Linked DNA regions of Homo sapiens: all the other regions are reported to be linked to region 3. The links are microRNA targets in miRTarBase. Many come from high-throughput screens and were not tested one by one. Region 3 holds a microRNA gene; each other region holds the end of a gene's coding sequence. Distances are from middle to middle.
Evidence for each region. The annotated mature microRNA hsa-miR-3612 reads AGGAGGCAUCUUGAGAAAUGGA and lies in region 3 at 1,829-1,850, shown strand. An mRNA with a match to its seed (bases 2 to 7 or 8) in the 3' UTR can be bound and repressed. Matches are read on the target gene's strand: a 7mer-m8 pairs with bases 2 to 8, a 7mer-A1 pairs with bases 2 to 7 and ends in A, and an 8mer does both.

Region 1: the mRNA of LENG8 is a reported target of hsa-miR-3612. Seed matches in the 3' UTR shown: 7mer-m8 at 1,578-1,584.
Region 2: miRTarBase lists UBR1 as a target of hsa-miR-3612. The part of its 3' UTR that is shown has no 7-base or 8-base seed match.
Region 4: the mRNA of MCUR1 is a reported target of hsa-miR-3612. Seed matches in the 3' UTR shown: 7mer-m8 at 1,425-1,431.
Region 5: the mRNA of ZNF805 is a reported target of hsa-miR-3612. The part of its 3' UTR that is shown has no 7-base or 8-base seed match.
Region 6: miRTarBase lists B4GALNT1 as a target of hsa-miR-3612. Seed matches in the 3' UTR shown: 7mer-m8 at 492-498, 7mer-m8 at 1,472-1,478 and 7mer-m8 at 2,166-2,172.

The regions. Positions count from the first base shown.
Region 1 is chr19:54,460,376-54,463,486 of GRCh38, reverse strand. LENG8 (leukocyte receptor cluster member 8) reads right to left here. Exons shown (of 16, transcript NM_052925.4): 16 at 1,471-2,721. The coding sequence ends at 2,559. LENG9 (leukocyte receptor cluster member 9) reads left to right here. Exons shown (of 1, transcript NM_001301782.2): 1 at 1-1,755. The coding sequence ends at 1,397. Among named protein-coding and RNA genes, the nearest start is that of LENG9, 1.8 kb to the left of the region's middle.
Region 2 is chr15:42,942,652-42,945,762 of GRCh38, reverse strand. It overlaps UBR1 (ubiquitin protein ligase E3 component n-recognin 1), which reads left to right. Exons shown (of 47, transcript NM_174916.3): 47 at 293-2,866. The coding sequence ends at 434. Among named protein-coding and RNA genes, the nearest start is that of TTBK2, 23 kb to the right of the region's middle.
Region 3 is chr12:128,292,277-128,295,387 of GRCh38, forward strand. MIR3612 (microRNA 3612) reads left to right here and starts at 1,816; the gene lies at 1,816-1,902. The region is part of intron 1 of TMEM132C (transmembrane protein 132C); the gene reads left to right.
Region 4 is chr6:13,787,903-13,791,013 of GRCh38, forward strand. It overlaps MCUR1 (mitochondrial calcium uniporter regulator 1), which reads right to left. Exons shown (of 9, transcript NM_001031713.4): 9 at 1-2,962. The coding sequence ends at 2,907. Among named protein-coding and RNA genes, the nearest start is that of MCUR1, 25 kb to the right of the region's middle. RefSeq lists an enhancer at 1-582 and a silencer at 1,251-1,419.
Region 5 is chr19:57,254,452-57,257,562 of GRCh38, reverse strand. ZNF805 (zinc finger protein 805) reads right to left here. Exons shown (of 4, transcript NM_001023563.4): 4 at 1-3,111. The coding sequence ends at 2,860. Among named protein-coding and RNA genes, the nearest start is that of ZNF805, 15 kb to the right of the region's middle.
Region 6 is chr12:57,624,139-57,627,198 of GRCh38, reverse strand. B4GALNT1 (beta-1,4-N-acetyl-galactosaminyltransferase 1) reads left to right here. Exons shown (of 11, transcript NM_001478.5): 11 at 238-3,060. The coding sequence ends at 455. It also overlaps the pseudogene SLC26A10P. Among named protein-coding and RNA genes, the nearest start is that of B4GALNT1, 7.5 kb to the left of the region's middle.

The DNA.
Region 1 (3,111 bases), not on the chromosome of region 3:
CCGCCACGGAACCCGCGCCCCCGCCGGCCTGCCGCTTCTTCCTGGAAGGCCGCTGCCGCTTCGGCGCCCGCTGCCGCCAGCCCCACCCTGGGGCGCCGGCGCCGCCTGGCCGCGAGGCGCAGCCGGAGGCCGGGGCCAAGAAGCCGCCGCTGCGCACAGCCGCGGACGTCATCCAGCGCATCCGCTGGGACCCGCGCCTCGACCCCGCCGACTTCTCGGTGGGCTACGTCGACCGCTTTCTGGGTGTGCGCGAGGAGCCCTTCAGCGCCTTTTGCTGGGACCAGCCGCTGGCGGCGCTCGGGCCGGGCGTGCTGGCAGTGCCCCAGCACCGCGTGCGCTTCTTCCGCTTCCGTGGCCGCCTTGTGTGGGACCGCGCCTCGCGCACCGACCTCGTCTTTGGCTCTGGCTCGGCGGCGGGACGCGGGCCCACCATCCTGGACGCACCGAACACCGAGGGCGCCCACGGGGCAGAGGGTGCCGAGTGGACACTGGCGGGGACAGGTCAGGAGGCCCAGGCTGCCCCCAAGCGAGGGAGCACAAGGCCGCTCTGCACAGGGCACCAGGAACCAGGCGTGGAGGAACCCGGAGAGCTGGAGGCGGCCCAGGAGAGGGCGCTGGGCACAGCTGCTGATTTGGGAACACTGGCCCCAAGAGGACGCCTCGCCGGAGTGACTGAGGCACTGAAGCCAACAGCAGCCACCAGGACCACATTGCTGGGGGGCAAGGAAGCACAGGCCCTGGGAGTCCCGGGGGGCTCCGCTGAGACGACAGAAGCCGAGTGGGGTCCTGCGGCCTGGCCCGAGGACAAAAGGGCCCGCCTTAGTGTTGCAGCCCCTTGCCAACCGCGCCCCACACATTTTGTGGCCCTCATGGTGACCGAGCCTGGGCTACAAGCAGAAGTGACCAAGGCCCAGGAATACCTGGTCCACGTGGCCCCACACTGCGCCAACTTCCTAGTGCCCTCTCAGAACCTACACCTGACCCTGGCCCTGCTGCGACTGGCAGGCGCTGGGGAGGAGGCCGCTGCCATTGGAGCTCTGAGACGGGCCCTCTTGGCCCCGGGGCTAAATGCACCCCCTCGGCTGAGCTTTAGAAAGCTGGTCCTCCTGGGCCCGCATGTGCTGTGTGCCCCACCCTCTCCCACACTGGAAAGCATGGCACAAGTGCTGAGCCAGAGGCTGGAAGCCGAGGGGCTGAGTACACTACAGTCTCCAGGGCAGCTGCACCCCCACCTCACCGTGGCCAAGGTGCCCCATGGTTCCCAGGTCCACCTCCCCAAGCTGGAGTTCACCCTCAGCCAGGAAGTGGGGTGCCAGCCCCTGCAGACACTCTGGCTGTGCCGTATAGGGAGGACAGGGGGGCCTTTCCAGCCCCTGGCTGAGATCCCCCTGGAGTGACACCCCCAGACCTCTGGAGGAGACAATGGATGCAAACAGCCCACACAGGAAAGACAAAGCAGGAGCGTGCACGCTCTCTCTTTCTCTCTTTAATTTTGGTTTCTCTCAAGCTTCCAAATGGTGCTCAGTGCTCCAAGGAAAGGAAGGAAGGAAGGAAAAGGAGGGGAGAGGAGGGGAAGGGGAGGCAGAGGAGGAACATCTGGAAAAAAAGCAGCCTGACAGTCCAGCTGTTTGCAAACTCATAGCACATCCTCCAGTTACATGGCAGAAGAGGGAGGGAGGGAGGGCCAAAAAGAAAAGGGAGAGGAGGAAGAAAAATAACTTAAATAAACACACACACAAAGAAAAGAGAAGGCAACATGACGTGAGCTGGTGATCCATGAAGGCAGGGAGGGAGGGGAACCGTTTTACCTGTGCTGAACCAAGGGAAGAATGCGGAGAGGGAGGGAGGGAAAGGGGAAAAAAAAATCAGAAGAAACACTGGGGGCAGAGGGAGGAGGGGACACGGAGACAACTTTATACAACTTGAGACGAGGCGGCCCGGCCGGCGTGTCCTCAGTGCGGTGTGGCGGCGGAGGATCTGGTGCTGGTGGTGCTGGCACTTCAGGGTGGGGGGCCGAGGACGGGCACAGTCTCTAAGCAGCTCCCCCACCCCAAACACGGAGGCCCCAAGGGGCTGGGAACAAGAGTCTGTGGCGAAGCAGGTGAGGCAGCGGGCGGTGGGCGGGCTTGCTGGGTGCCCCCGCCGCAGGCGGGCACGGGCTGGACGGCCTGTCTTCTTTCCACTGGCCCCCCGGCATGGGATGGGCCAGGGCGCCGGGTCGGGTACCGGAGTGCAAGCTCGAAAGAGAGAGAGAGAAAACACTGAGACAGCATTAGTGGAGTGAAAGGCGGACACAGATGAGCCTGCAGACCATGCCCCCAACCCTCCGCTGCCCATCCCCTCCTCCCCAATCCCATCCCTCTGAGGCAAAAAATAAAAACGTAGAAAAATCTCTGTACAGACTCCCCGGTGGGAAAACGGGGGCAGGGATGGTGGCTCTTCCTGGAGCGCACTCCCCACAAATAAATTTACAACCCAAGTCCACGGCTCAAAAACAGAATCCGCAAAGGCAGCGCTGGGGGCTGCAGCCCCTGCCCCCGCCCCTCCTCGCTGGGTGCTCAGAAGGCTGACAGCTGCGCCAGGCTGAGGCGGCAGTCGATGCTGGAGTTGTCCGGGCCCGTGTAGGCCAGGCCCAGGGGCTCTAGGAAGGCCCGGCAGGCGGCCTCGCCCTCGAAGGCCAGCTCGGCCTGCAGGTAGGAGACTGGCAGCGCAGGGCGGAAGCTATGGAGACAAGAGGAGAAGGTGATGAGGCGGGCGGGCGGGAGGGCAGGGGAGGGCCCCACGAGCGGGGAGGCCCCCCCATTCGGGTGCCCACAGGATTTCCTCAGCACAGTGCCTGCTGGCTCCCCACCCGCCTCCCAGCCTCCCCACCTCAGGGGCTCGGGGGGGGCCCGGGGGGGGTTAGTGACCCCAGTCCCCTGTGCCCCCCTCACCCTCACTTACCTGTGCGGGGGCCAGGGAGGAGCGGGGACGGGCAGGGAAGGGCCCAGCGGGCTCCTCCGCTGGCTGAGGGGCAGGGACCAGATGGAGGGAGCAGCACGTGGCAGGGGATGGGGATGGCGGGGCTGCCAGGGCCACCGTGGGGACCCAGCCCTCGCTGCCTCCCCTGCC
Region 2 (3,111 bases), not on the chromosome of region 3:
TGCTGCTTCAAGTTATAAACCTCAGTGACCATTTAAGTGAGGTCCCATAATGCCATAATATACCTGACCTATTTTATGAATGGTCAAGGAGTACATTTCTGCTTTATTAGCTAAGTAGCCTGTCAAGTTCTTAGTGATCAATGGTGAAGGGAAAATATCCCTTTTTAAGCCCTGTGCTGGTGAGTCCTCCCGGCTCCAGGAACATCTCAAGAGTGCATACTAATTTAGACAATAAAGATGTGGCAGTTACTAGATTCAAACTTACATGTTGTTTTTTCTTTTTTCCCTAAAGGAGGGGCAACCCCCTTCATTTATCTCGTGAGCGGTATCGGAAGCTCCATTTGGTCTGGCAACAACACTGCATTATAGAAGAGATTGCTAGGAGCCAAGAGACTAATCAGATGTTATTTGGATTCAACTGGCAGTTACTGTGAGCTCCAACTCTGCCTCAAGACAATCACAAATGACGACAGTAGTAAAGGCTGATTCAAAATTATGGAAAACTTTCTGAGGGCTGGGAAAGTATTGGAGGGTCTTTTGCTCCATGTCCAGGTTCACTTACATCAATAAAATATTTCTTAATGGAGTATTGCTTTCAATTAGCAAACATATGCTTCACAGGAAAAAAGGACATAGATCAATCTGTTTTATGTGCTAGTATTTCCAGGAATTTATTCCCCTTCATAATTTGTCTCATTTCATTTTATTTCATCCACTTGGTAGATGAAGTCACGTCAAACAGTTGTAGACATTTTATATGTTGGTTAACTCTTCTGCAATTTTGTATTTGGTGTTTTCCCCCCAAGTTTAGTTCAACTGACATTGGATCACTGACAAAATTCTAATAATCTGTGATAGTCTTCCTTGCAGTTAAAGAAGAATTGCAGAAACCATGCAATATACTTGGGAAAGATTCCAAAAATAAATTTTTTATTATTTCTCTTTTAAGGAAATACCCCTAATGTGCCACCTGCTGCTATCACCACAAATTAAACTCAATCTCTATGTGGACAGAGGATGATTTCTGCCAATATGGAAAAGCTTTTTTCTCACTGTAGGCCTCAAGAAAAGTTAGGGTAATGTATTTGTTATTCATTCCTGACGGTACAAAGAGCTTGCAGTTCTCACCTCTGACTACCAGTAGCTTTGTTGAGTTTTGAAATAATACTTGACATTTTCCAAAGGCAAATCTCATTCTGCAAGGAGATTGTGGCACCATCCTGTTTGACTCTCAGAAACCTCTTGTAATTCTGATGTAAAAACTGTAGAATGAAGATGAGAAAATTCTCGCAATGAGTGGATCATGACAACTGTAAATTAGAACAATCAGATTTAAACCAATTCCGCAGTCTTCTATATCTTTGTAAAAGACAAATCCTTGATGTTGTCTGTGTGCAACCTTTTCATAAACTCTGGTTTTATGACTAGTACAAACCACCAAAAAAGCCATGTGATCAATAGTCTGTGTCCTGTTATAACATGCTGTGGTTGAGCCATCTTGTTTATAAATAATAGAGCTCTCCTGAATTTGTGCATAGACTTCTTGGTTCCTGGCTTTTGTTTTTTGTATCAAGAGATTGTGATATAAAACAGCAGAAGATAAATGGAAACCTTCCATTTTAACTTACGTTGTTTCTGGGGTAATGTTAGAACCTTGAAAGATGCATTCAAAGACTGTATCTTATTTTGCCCTTGGCTATTAGTGTCTCACATATGTGTGTAAATGTTTTCCTACCTTCTTTTTGCTCAGCAAAGGCAAGCAAGTAAAATATATTTGCTAAGTGATTAGTGATGCACATTTGGGGCTAGATTTTTTTGGTACTTTTATGTAAAGAAAAGTGGATTTTGCAGTAAGGGATTGGCATGAGCAGGCGTCAGAATCACAATCATGATTTTCTACTTGAATAATTACAATTCAGAAGGTATCTGGATAAATAGATACATGTCTAGTGAACAATTTGTAACAATAACAGGTAAGGATCAGGAAATTCAGTATTCAGTTTGTCAGATTTGCCAGAATGATGAAAGTATTTGAACATGTGTGTTTGTTTCTTATATAATTGTATTGAGTGGATTGTTTGACTGGGAAATCTGGGCTAGAATAGGAAACAGAAGATACTGACTTCTACCCTAATAGATGGGCCCCAATTTAGCAAAGATAAACTGACTTTATTTTTAGTCCTTTTTATATTAACTTAATAAATTCTGGAGTTAGGCTCTCAAGAGGACAGAGGGACTGTCTGGCAATGGCCAGCCAGACCTTTACTGCCAAAGAACCCATTTCATATTGCGTTCCACTGATTGAGATTGATTCAGATTTTTGCACTGTAGATGAGCGTATGTCTCAGTGCTGCCCCAAGCCCCAGGGATTTCTCATTATGTTCAAATGTCCTAGTGATTTACCTTAATCATTGCAAACAATTATGCTTATGAAGTTTACTTACAAACAAGCAACTGAGTCACTTTATTTTCTTTAGTGTAGTATGTGAAGGCACTGGTTCAACAGGATGGCTCCAGAACTGTGTTTTTCTAATGTTTGGTAAGGGGCTAGTGAGAATTTTAATGATATGGTGAAGAAAAATATATCTGTATAATTAATTTATTATATTGGTGTATGGGCTGTGAGTTCACCTTTTAGTGGTCATTTGTCATTTCATAACAACTATGCATTTTGGTTCACTGTGATGATGATCTATATTTAGTGACTGCAACATGTTTATACCACTGATTCAAATTCCATCCATGATGAAGTTATACAAATAATGCATATATTGATAACTTTTATTGCAAAAATGTAAATTTAAAACTTGTATAATGTTCTTGTGCTTTTTAAAATAAAATATATGTGTATATTTAAAAAGAAAAATAGGGACTTCTCATGTTTGGGGATTTGGGTTTGAAGTATAAAAATCTGCTAGGAAGACTCTCCAGTTGAAACCTTTGTCAGCCGAGGCAAATGTTTTAAAAGACATAGGTGTTTAGTATACATGGGTCTCCAAACTTTTTAGCCATATACTCCATCAATAAATAGTTTTTAGCATGCATACCAAATAGAATATAAACACATAACACATATTTTATATTCTATATGCAGTGCTTTACTAATACATC
Region 3 (3,111 bases):
ACTTAGAGGAAAGCCTTGGAAACAAAGCCGGCCTCCCTGAGATTCCTGCTGTGTACAAGGGAGACAGGCCCACACTTCCCCACCTGAACCTGTTTTTGACAATCCCTGCCCAACTTCCTCACCCAGCAGTTGTAAGAAATGGGTTTGTCAATGGTTTTTTCTAACTTGTTCCAGTAGAATGTAAGCTCCTCGTGGGCATAGATTTTGTCTCTGTTGCCAGTACTGAAACCCTGGTACCTAGATGAGTGCTGGGCACACAGCAGGTACTTTGTAAATATCTATTAAGTGTACTTAGTACCTAGGTACCCTAGTACCTAGATGAGGTATTCATAAGTGTCTGTTAAGTGTACTTAGTACCTAGGTACCTAAGTTCCTAGATGAGGTATTCATAAGTGTCTGTTAAGTGTACTTAGTACCTAGGTACCTAAATTCCTAGATGAGGTACTTCATAAGTGTACTTAGTACCTAGGTACCCTAGTACCTAGATGAGGCACTTCATAAGTGTCTGTTAAGTGTACAATAAGAACTGTGGATCATGACACAGTGGAATTAACTTGATAGACTGTTGCTGTCAGCAGTTTTCTTTCATAAACAGAATAGCATAGAAATTCTATTCCTAATAGAGCACATTTCACATGGTAGGTCTGTGTTTTCTGTGTGTTGGTGTAGGTATGTGTATGTGTGTGTGTGTATATGCAAGCACGAGCACCAACTTGTGTTGTAAAATGTGATTCTTACAGTAGACCTTGATTTTCAAAAAATTTGAAAGCCGGACAGCAAGATAATAGTTCAGCTTTTTGTGAACGGTAAGGAGTGTGCAAATCTGAACCTGTAGTGTCTCCTGGATTGCTGTCAGTGAGGACAGAGGATCCTCTTTAAAAACTGGGTCCAAACTCCCTCTGGTCTCATTTTGCACCTCTCCACAGTATAAACTCTCCTTTCCAACCATTCCAAATAACTTAATTCCCTAATCTCAGGGGGCCGTTTCATTGCAGAAATTGCTGCTTGTTCACAAACTTAGTAAGGTACTTAAAAAAGATTTTGTCATGGTTAATAAAAGTCACAGGGTAAATTGGTCTTATTTCTTCTTTTTAGTGCAAAATGTAATCCCTTCACCCTGATTGTTTTGCTTAGTTGTACACACCACCCATCGGGAGGCCAGAAAACTTGTATTTATTTCTAGAGCTACCTCCTTACAGAATTTCAAAGAACCTCGGGGCACTTGAGAATTGGTGTCCAGACAGGATGAATCATTTCTTCTTCAATCAGGATTTTTTATTTTATTTTATTTTGCTGGGGGATAAAGATAAAGATGATTGAACTTGTTTTATTTAGGGGAAAAACAGCCTCTCTTTGAACTCTTGATCTCCACTTCTCAGGAGTGGAGCCCATTTGTAAACTCTCAGGTCTCTCATTGCCTTCTTTGTCTCCCAACCTCCTAAGGTCGAGAGTGATTCTTTATGGCAAAGAGTGAGCATTCTGGAGACTGCACAGCCTCCTCTGAACAAACTGGAGCATATATTTCCCGCATCGTCTCTGTCACCTCCCTGGGTTTTATTTTAATTGCCATGCTTTTCAAAAGCACAATTCCTATTAAATTATTCATGGTGGTATAATGTTTATGTGATCAGAGTAATTATTATAATTACGCATTGTGAATTTTCATAATTAATGACCTCACTCGGATTTCATTTGGTGCAGAATATTTCCGAAGGGGAATCAGGTGGTTGTGTCTGCTGGGGGAATCAGAATGGAATAAAATGGTGACCTATCTTGGGTTTTGCAGAGCAGTAGAAACTTCAGTCATTCACTTTGGGGACTGGGGATGAGGAGGCATCTTGAGAAATGGAAGGAATGGGATCTACTTCCAGTTCACTAGAGGCGTCCTGACACCCCTAGCTCAGCATCTTCCTCTGTGAACCGCCCATGGGAAGGTGTCCAAAGGTGTCCTAGTAGAACAAGCCTAGCAGACCAACAGGAGCAAGGAGACCAGACACGCGTCTCACTTTTGGGGCTTTTGAATGAGACTGGGGCTTACCAAATCTGCAGAAACCAGCCAACAATGCTCAACAGCAGCAAAACCACACTTCAGTGACTCACACAGCAAGGTGGCCCTAACAGGACTCAGGCTTCAGCTGACTTCCTCTCCCTCTCTAATTCTGGAAAGAGTAGAAAATGCAAGCCATTGGAGAAATGGCTGGTGGCACTCTGAGCATGGGAAGAAATTTGATATTTTATGATTGGCACCTGTCTTAGTCTGTTCTAGTTGCTCTAACAAAATACCAGAGACTGGGAAGCATCTAAACAACAGGAATTTGTTTCTTGCAGTTCCAGAGCCCAGAGATCCAAGATCAGGACACCAGCAGATTCACTATCTGGTGAGAGCCGGCTTCCTGGTTCATAGACAGGGCTTCTCCCTATGTCCTCTCACAGTGGAGGGGAGAGGAATCTCCCTAGACCCTTTTATAAGGGCCCTAATCCCATTCATGAGGCTCCACCCCCGTGACCTCATCACCTCCCAAAGGTACCACCTCCTAAGACCTCCATTCTGAAGAGGAGGATTTCAACACATGAATTTTCAAGGAACAAAGACGTTTAGAACACAGCCATTTTGTAGTCAGATTTCAAATATTTTAATGCCTCCATTTTCCTCATCTTTGACTTGTATCTGAGGAACCAATGCTTGGTGTGAGCCCTAAATAAATAAATAATAGATAGATAGATAGGTAGATAGATAAGAAGTTCAAGCTTCTTTGTCCCCCAGCAAAAAAAAAAAATTAAAAAATTGAGAAAGAAATGATTTATCCTGTTTCATCCTGTTTTGTATACAAATAGATGCCAGTACTCAAGTGCCCCAAGGTTCTTTGAAATTCTGTATGGAGCTAGCTCTAGAAATAAATTTATATTATGTTTGAGACAGGGTCTTGCTCTGTTGCCCAGGCTGGAGTGCAGTGGCACAATCACAACTCACCGCAGCCTCGAACTCCTGGCCTCAAGCAGTCCTCCTGCCTCAGTCTCCCAAAGTTATGGGATTACAAGTGTGAGTCAACACACCCAGTCCCAAAATAAATATTTGGTATAGCTATAGCTATTCACTAAGACCTTTCATCA
Region 4 (3,111 bases), not on the chromosome of region 3:
CCAGGCAGATCTCGTCTGGGCCCGAGTCTCGTTGCAGTGGTGTAATCTCTGCTCACTGCAACCTCTGCCTCCCAGGTTCATGCAATTTTCCTGTCTCAGCCTCCCGAGTAGCTAGGATTACAGGGGTGTGCCACCACGCCTGGCTAATTTTTCTATTTTTAGTAGCGAGAGCATTTCGTCATGTTGGCCAGTCTGGTCTCCAACTCCTGACCTCAGGTGATCTGCCTGCCTTGGCCTCCCAAAGTGCTGGGATTATAGGCATGAGCCACCGCACCCAGCATCAGTAAGTTTTAATATTACGTCTAGTCGGCTCACGGGTGCTTGAGCCAGAAGTGGGAAGGGTACACTTGTATTTTGGGCTCAAATGGTTTTCAAATAAAATACATCTGACCAAATAAAGTGAACACAGTCCTGAGCCCTCCTCTCTCCAGATATGCATGCAATCCACACCATCAAAAGAAGAGTTCACTGTTCCCAAGGCCAAGAAGAGGCTATGCTGTACTGCAAAGAACTCTATAGCAAAATCGAACACCCAAATTAAGTGCCAGAATGATGCAGCCCGCTCTCACCAGGAAGAACGACATGTGAGAAAACTTATAGCAGATGCAAAAATGTCAACCCACCATGTTATTTAAAAAAAAATTTTATCAGGATACAAGGACACTTCACTGTTTTTAACCCACACAAGGTTAGGTAATGTTTACCTTGAAACATAATCGCATATGGCCCTTTATGCCACTCACCTAGGCCTTTAATAATGAGGGCAATTGCTAAGTGTGCTGTCTCTTCTGGGGACTTCTCTCTGAAAGGGGGATGATATATTGATAAAATATTTTATTAATCAGTTAAGAATTTTTGATCTACTTGAAAAAGATTAAATTATAATATTTCACTTTGAAACTGCTATTGCTCATGCAAAAGTACTTGATTTTCATACTATATGGAGCTCACAATCTTTGGACTACACAAACATTCTCTAAAAGGGCAATGACTTATATTTTCCAAAGTTTAGACATGACATCCAAAGGACAAAAGGTAACTATTTTTTTTACCAATGTGGTTGGAACAGTGACAACGAGCAATGTATTCACCAAACTGATCAAAAAATCTGCCTGTGGTTCCTTCACTGTATGTGTGTGCAGAGAAAGGCAGAAAAGCTTCTATCCATGTCATTGTCTCTCTTGCCCATGTGCCAGTAATTTGAATAAGATGAGAATGGGCCAGGCGCAGCGGCTCACGCCTGTAATCCCACTACTTTGGGAGACCAAGGCGGGTGAATCACGAGGTCAGGAGTTAGAGACCAGCCTGGCCAACATGGTGAAACCTCATCTCTACTAAAAATACAAAAATTAGCTGGGCGTGGTGGTGGGCACCTGTAATCCCAGCTACTCAGGAGACTGAGGCAGGAGAATCGCTTGAACCCAGGAGGCAGAGGTTGCAGTGAGCAGAGATCACGACAATGCACTCCAGCCCTGCGACAGTGCGAGACTCCGTCTCAAAAAAAAAAAAAAGGTGAGAATGTGCTTTTCCAGAATAACCCCAGTTGTATCTAGAATTTGTTTTCAATATAAAGGCAGGTATGAGAATGTTTTGAACAACAGAATTAATCCATCTAGATTAGAATGCTGTGTGGCATGACCATTCTCGAATTTTGAAAGCCTGAGCTGGTTGTGGGCAAGGGGATATTCATTAATGACATAAATTTCATTTATGAAATATGTATCCATCATCTAGGTATCTTATACATGGAGAGCTGACTGCATCCCTTGTATAAAAAGTAAATGAAGACCGGAAGGAAGCAGACTTTGTCCTGCAAACTGAAGCAAAGTTCCATGCTAAGAATCAGCAGGTTTTCTAGGTAGGTAATGCCACCAGTGGAGGATTATTACAGTTCTCAAATCATGAGGGAAAGAGATGGAGAAGAGGGAGGGAGGAGGGAAAATCTTGCATTCTAAGAGGTAAGAGTCCCCATTACAATTGCAATGCTTCTTTAGACAGCTGATTTTTCTGGCTGGAAGGCACATTAAAAATAACCCTAACAATAACTTACCAAGACAATGGAAATCAAAAGAAAAGAAGGTAGACGTGCAGCTGTCTTATTAACATGACAACCAACTACAGCTGAAACAATACTATGGTACAGGGACTAGCTCATGTTAAAGACTGGTTATTTAGGTAAAGAGGATCTGGTGCTCTTGGTTTAGCTTCAGTGATTTTCCAGCACTTATTAAAGCCATTGTGCCCTGAACATGGAGACCCCCAAATCCTCTATGTGCCAAAGATTAAGTTGTAGAGAATTACATCAATGTTTGCTGTTGGTGTGCACCACAGATGAGACCAAGCTTCCTGGTCCGGCTAAGTGGAATCTTCCATGCACTGTGCACCACTCAGCTAGAAAGTCAACTAAGCAGAAAGGAGATAAGGAATGGCTATGGAATACCTGACTTCTTTATCTTGGTTATGTGTCCACAATTTTCATAAAAATAAATAATACACATTAAGTCAAAATCTGGGCTCAAATGTGTAACAAGAAAACAAAAGGACAACAATCTGGTATTCCGGTTTTTTTTTTTTTTTTGAGACGGAGTCTCGCTCTGTTGCCCAGGCTGGAGTGCAGTGACGTGATCTCGGCTCACTACAAGCTCCGCCTCCCAGGTTCACACCTTAGCCTCCCGAGTAGCTGGGACTACAGGCGCCCGCCACCACGCCCGCCTAATGTTTTAATTTTTTAGTAGAGACGGGGTTTCACCGTGTTGGCCAGGCTGGTCTCGAACTCCTGACCTCAGGTAATCCACCTGCCTCAGCCTCCCAAAGTGCTGGAATTACAGGTGTGAGCCACCGCACCCAGCCAACAATCTGGTATTCTTAAGGCAAAACAGTAGAAATCACTTTAAATAGACACTTTATTAGATCCACAGGCGATAAAATCCCAGAGCTACTGTTAGGCACGTAAATATAGACCCTGTAAGAAAAAAACAATTGAGAGTACTATTAGTTCTATTAAGAGTTACTTGAGGGAACATCTTTTTTTAAGAAAACCTAAAAAAGAAAACCTAGAAACTTAGATTGCTCACTGATGTCCCATATTCCGTGAAACGCCTGCCTACTGAA
Region 5 (3,111 bases), not on the chromosome of region 3:
CTGACCACACAAATATCAGATAAAAATTGATAAGAGTATTAACAGGAACAAAAAGGGACATTACTTAATTATAAAAGGGTCAATACACCAAGAATACTAAGCAAACCTACATGTGTATATACCAAACAACAGAGCTTTAAATTATGTGGAGCAAAAACTGATAGAACTTAAAGGAGGAATAGGTAATTCCACAATTATAGCTCAGGACTTCAACATCCTTCTCTTGGCAATTGATAGAAATACTAGACAGAAAATCAGCAAGGATACAGGAGACCTAAATAACACCACCAACTAACAGGATCATACAAACTTTTACAGAAACTCCACCAAATGACCGAGAACACACATTCTTTTCAAGCAGCTATGTAAAACAAGACAGCCTATATCCTGGGTCATAAGGAAAAAAAGTCAACAAATTTCAACAGTAACATCAAATGCAAAACAAATTAGAAATCAATAACAAATAGCAGGGAATACTCCAAACACTATTAAACAATATACTTCTAAATAATTCCTGGGTTAGAGAAGATGTCTCAAAAGGAATCAGGCAATCTTAGAACTGAGTAAGATAATCAAAAGCATATTAAGACTTGTGGGATGAAACTAACAGCAGTGTAAGAAAAATGTATAGAACTTAAAGCTTATATTAAAAAAGAAAAAAAGCCTCAAATCAATAACCTAAACATCCACGTCAGGAAACCACTGAGTCAAATACAACCAGAGCAAGTAGGAGAAAGGATACAATACACATCAGAGCAGATATCAGTGAAATTAAGAACAGAGACTGGAGAAAAATCAGTGATATAAAGTGCTATTTCTTTGAAATGATCAATGAAATTGACATATGTCTACAAAGACTGACAATAATAAGTGATACATTTCCAATATCAAGAATACAACAAGGAACATAAGTACAGATCCTGCTGCCATCAAGAGGATAAAAGGAAATATTTCAAAGAATGCTACAAATTAGAACATTTACATAAAATGAACACTTCCTTAAGAAAATCTATAAAAATTCATCCAATATGAAATACTCTGAATAGTTCTATACCTATTAAATAAAATAAATACATAATTAAAAAGCATTCAAAAGGAAAATCTCCAGGTCCCACTTCTTCACTGGAGAAAGCTACCAAACATTAAAGGAACAAATAACACCAATTCTACACATGATCTTCCAAAAAAACAGAAGAGAATTCCTTCCAATTCATGTTAGGAGGTTAGTTATCATCTAGACATCAAAACCAAACAGTAACAGTTGAAGAAAGAAAACTACAGATTATCACTCATGAAATCAGAGGAAAGCTTCCTCAACAAAATACTAGCAAATGAAATACTGTAGCATAGTACACAAACAAAATTATACTCCATGATCAAGTAGGGCTTATCACAAAGATGTGAGGCTGGTTCAATACTTGAAACTCAATCAAGGTAACACATCATATCAACTGACTATAGAAGTAACATCACATAATTAAATCAATTGGTGGAGAAAAAGCATATGACAAAATTCAACACTTATTAATAATAACCAAAAAAATCCCAGCAAATTAGGAATAGAGGGAAACTTTCTAAACTCGATAGAGAAACTCTTTGGAAGCAACTTTCAACATCATAATAATGAGAAACTGAACATTTCCCCCTAATATCAGGAACAAGGCATGGATAACTTGTCACTATTCGTATTCAACATCACACTGGAAATCCTACCTAGTACAATAACATGAGAAAAGCAAATAAAAGGTATACAGATGGGAAGCAAGAAATAAAACTGTCCCAAATTGCAAATGACATTTCTATATTTAAAATCCTAAGGATTCTCCCAAAAGAAATGGCAAGAAATAATGAGTTTAGGAAGGTTGCAAGACAGCAAAATAAGATTGAAAAAATAATGTTTCTGTATACTAGCCAACATCATGTGAATATTGAAACTTTAAATATCAATGCCATTTACAATCACTCAAAAAACTATGCAGCTATAATTCTTATTTTAAATGTGCAGGAGTTATACTGTGTAAACTATAAAACAGTAATGAAATATATCAAAGAAAATTTAAATAATGAAAAGATAGGCTATGTTCATGAATTGGAAGACTAAGATGCCAATTTCCAACACATTGATCTATAGATTTAACTCAATTTCTATCAAAATCCAAGCAAGAATATTTGAAAAACAGAAAAACCAATCCTAAAGTGTATATGGAAAGTCAAACTAGGAATGCTAAATGAATTTTAAATAAAAATAGTAAGAAAAAAGAAATCACATTACCTAATTTTGAGATTTACCATACAGCTATAGCAATCAAGTAAACCAACAGATGGGAATCAAGAAAAATTCTCAGTGTTAGTGTTTAAAACCCATTAAAAAAGAATTTTTTTAAAAAATCAAAGACCTAAACAGTATTAAGTGGTACAATAAAATGTGCGCATTCATGTTTCTTTTAATCCTTAAATATAAAAGTATTTCATAACTCAAGGCTTCATTATTTCTCATAAAAACAATGCTTCTTAAGAAGAGACAATGTTGTAGAACAAAGACATTGAGTAAGTTTCCAGACCTTCCCTTACTAACTTTCCTGACACAGGACAGAAATGTACATACAAGACAACAGTATAAAAGCAGTGTCTGCATTTCATTTTCTTTTCTATGTCACCTCTTTCTGTTTATAAAAATTCCTGAGATAACATTGCACTGTAAACTAATGAGAAAGATGGAGCTAAAGGTTTTCCCAAGTGCGTAATAACCACTGGGTGTTTTTCCAGGATGAATTCGGATGGAGAATAAGGCTCTAAGCTGCGTGATTTTCTAATATGACTCCTTAGGTGACAAATGACATTTGGCAACAGAAGGTTTTCTCACAGTGAAGACACTTGTGGGGTTTCTCTTTGGTATGTACGATCAGATGCCATGTAAGATGCTTCCTCTTGCAAAAGATTTTCCTCAGTGGTGACATTCAAAAAGTTTTTCCCCAATAAAAGTTCTTGGATGTTGACTGAGGTCTGCCCACTTGTAAAAGGTCTTCCCACATCTGTTACACTGATAGGATTTCTCCCAGTATGCATCCTTTGATGCTGAGTGAGGGACGAGCTGCGACTGAAGGCCTTTCC
Region 6 (3,060 bases), 71 Mb from region 3:
CGTTTATTTAACCTCTGGGAGTAGGGGTAGGTTTTTCGATTTTCAAAGCACAAGTATATTGACTCCATTTACACAAGAGTAAGACTGAGACCCAGGGAGTTGATTTACATGCTCAGGGTCCTTAGAAACAAGCCTTTGCACACACACTTTCCACACCCTAAATTTGAGAGTTCTCCCTTACCAGTCGGCCTTCTGCACCCTCAGGATCCCTCACTGTGTACTCCCCTCCACCCCCAGAATTCTTCTTGGATGGGCTTGGTTCCCTTCGGGTTGGCTCCTGCTCCGACGTCGTGGTGGATCATGCATCCAAACTGAAGCTGCCTTGGACATCAAGGGATGCCGGAGCAGAGACTTACGCCCGGTACCGTTACCCAGGATCACTGGACGAGAGCCAGATGGCCAAACACCGGCTGCTCTTCTTCAAACACCGGCTGCAGTGCATGACCTCCCAGTGATGGCCCGCTGGGGATTTCTGACTGTCAGGCTGGGCCTGCCTCCTTGTCCCTGCCAGGAATTTCCAACAAACCCCACCACCCTGTGAGCACTCTACTGGCTGTCCCTGAGCCTCTAGTTCCTCACTCTTCCTTTTCAGAACCTGATGCCCAGTAGGGGTTGTCCTGGTGACACCCCTCCTTTTTCCAGTGCCCAGAGGCCTGGTGGAGCCATAACCTCTCCCACAGCCAGTGCCAAGTCCTCCCCCTGCCCATTCTCATGGGGCAGGAAATGGGGGGATCACTTTCCAAGTGCCAAAGAGCCCAGAGGGACTCTAAGAACCTAAGGTGGAAACACTGTCCTCTCATCTTGGGACCGAGGGGGTGGGGAAGTTCCCCAACACATAATCCCAAGACTGTGCCCCTCATCTGCATCTTCAGATCCAGTACTCTGTGTACCTGCTCCAGCCCCACCCCCACAGAGAGAACTTGTGGCTCTGGGGCTGGGGTGAGGGCTGGTGGTTGGTGAAAGCCATTCTTAGTTGTGTCTCTGCAATGCTGTGGGCACAAAAGAAGGGGCACCAGAGTCCCTGTGCAAACACCTAGACTCACTTCATGGATTCCAAAGCTCTCAGCTTCATTTTATTAGTTACGTTAGGTAAGGGGGTTCAAGGGTCATGGTCCTCATCACACACATGTCATCAGGGCCCTCTGCACTCCACATGATGAGGTCAGACCCACACGGTGCAAATCTTTGGGTCAGTGAGCTCCTGGAGAAGAGAGGAGACATGTCAGGAATAGATTAGGCACCCCTCTTCCTTAATGAAATGTGGCAGTCCTCTCAGGGGTACCCCACCTACTTAGGGATCTGAGTTCTTCAGTTCCTCACCCATAGCTCAGCCCGGGCTCCCTGATTTGGTCTTCAATCTACTATTCATTCCGTCCCCACCCTTTTCTTCTTGATCTTCCTCAGACCCTTTCCCAAACCCCTCTCCCTGGGTCTCCAGCCACTTACCCCTGCCTCACTTGCCGCAGCCCAGTGCCTCCTGGCTCCCGCTCCTGGTGCTACTGCCCCTTAACAGGCTCCCCAGGGCATAAGCAGCTGCATCCTGCACACTCACAAACAGCTGATCTGGAGTCACCCTGTCCAGGAGTCCTACCCGGGTCAGTGTCCCCTGCACCAAGGCTATGTGGGGAGGGTGTCAGACTCTGAGACCCTAAGTCCACACCGGGTCCTTTTCCCTACCGCAGGTGTCCAGTCATTGCCCAGGCACTGGGCCCCGCTCTTCTCCACACATCTCACCATTACACTGAGCCAGGAGGAGGCGGATCCTAGCATCTCGACATCGGCTGGCCAGCTGCAGGGATGGGGCAAAGGGGTTAAGTCCCAGATCAGAGGGTATGAGTGAGATGCTAAGGGGTTTCTCCTCAACCTACCCTCTCCCTCACCTGCACCACTTCTCTGGCCCCAGCAGCATCTGCAAAGGTGACACCACTGAAGTCTAGGACCACCACCCTGACAGGCTCAGCAACTAGAATGGGAGAAGACAGGAGTACCCAGGTGTCACCATGCAACATGCCCAAATCTTCCTTCTTGTCACCCCATCTCACCTGCAACCATTGGGCCATCTGGCTTTGAAGTCTCCTATAAGTAAAGAAGGGCAGTCACCACTCCCGAAACACAGCATGAACATGCACCCCTTGAGCACAAGGATCCCCCTCAGAACACCCACCTGCCTCCCACTCCCTGAGGATCCACATCCCTCCTAAACCAAGCTCCTTCACCTTTTCTCCTTCTCCGAGCCCCAGGTGCCACTCCAGGTTGCAGCGAAACTGCCCACGGGTCCCAAAGTACAGTGGTGTTGGATAGCTCAGGATGCAGAGCCCCGGGACCTGGAGGAGCTAAGAGGTCAAAGGATCAGAGAAATGTCTGGGGCTAATCTTCCCTTCCTTCTTTGGCTGCAGCCCACCCACCCTGGGGCTTCCTCTGAGTGGTCTGTAGAGCTCTGTCCCCTCAGCCTGTCCAAGTGCCAGGCACTACACCCTAGGGAAGAAGGTGGGGCCAGATTTCCAGCTTAGCCTGGCCTGGCTGGAGAGTCACCCCAAGCACCTCATTCTCTTCCCCTGCCCCGACCTCAACTCCACTCATCTCTATGCCCACCTCCGGGTGCGGCAGACCACAGTCATCATGGAGAAGACCACACCCACAGCCAGGCCCAAATCCACACTCAGGGTCACTACTGCCACCCAGGTGACCATCCACACAGCCTGCAGGATAGGGATAGGGGTGGATTGCCCAAAAGAAAAGCCAGGCCATCACTGCTGGGTAAAGAGATCCAGGGCAGTGACTACCAAGGCAAGTGATGGGGAGAGATGATCCAGGAAGAAGTGGAAAGCATGACAGAAGGAAACAACAGGGTTGATTCAATGGGACACACACCAAATGTAATGACCCGCACCAGTTGGGAAGTTACAAATATTCAGGCCAAAGGGGTTCAAACCCCATCCTTTCCCTTGCCTGTGAGTAAAGCATACTAGGAGTTATGTTTGCTGGGGGAGTGGGTGGGTTGCAGAACTTAAGACCAGGACAATTAGGTTTGGTTCAGGGCAGAGGCTGGGGATGCTAACA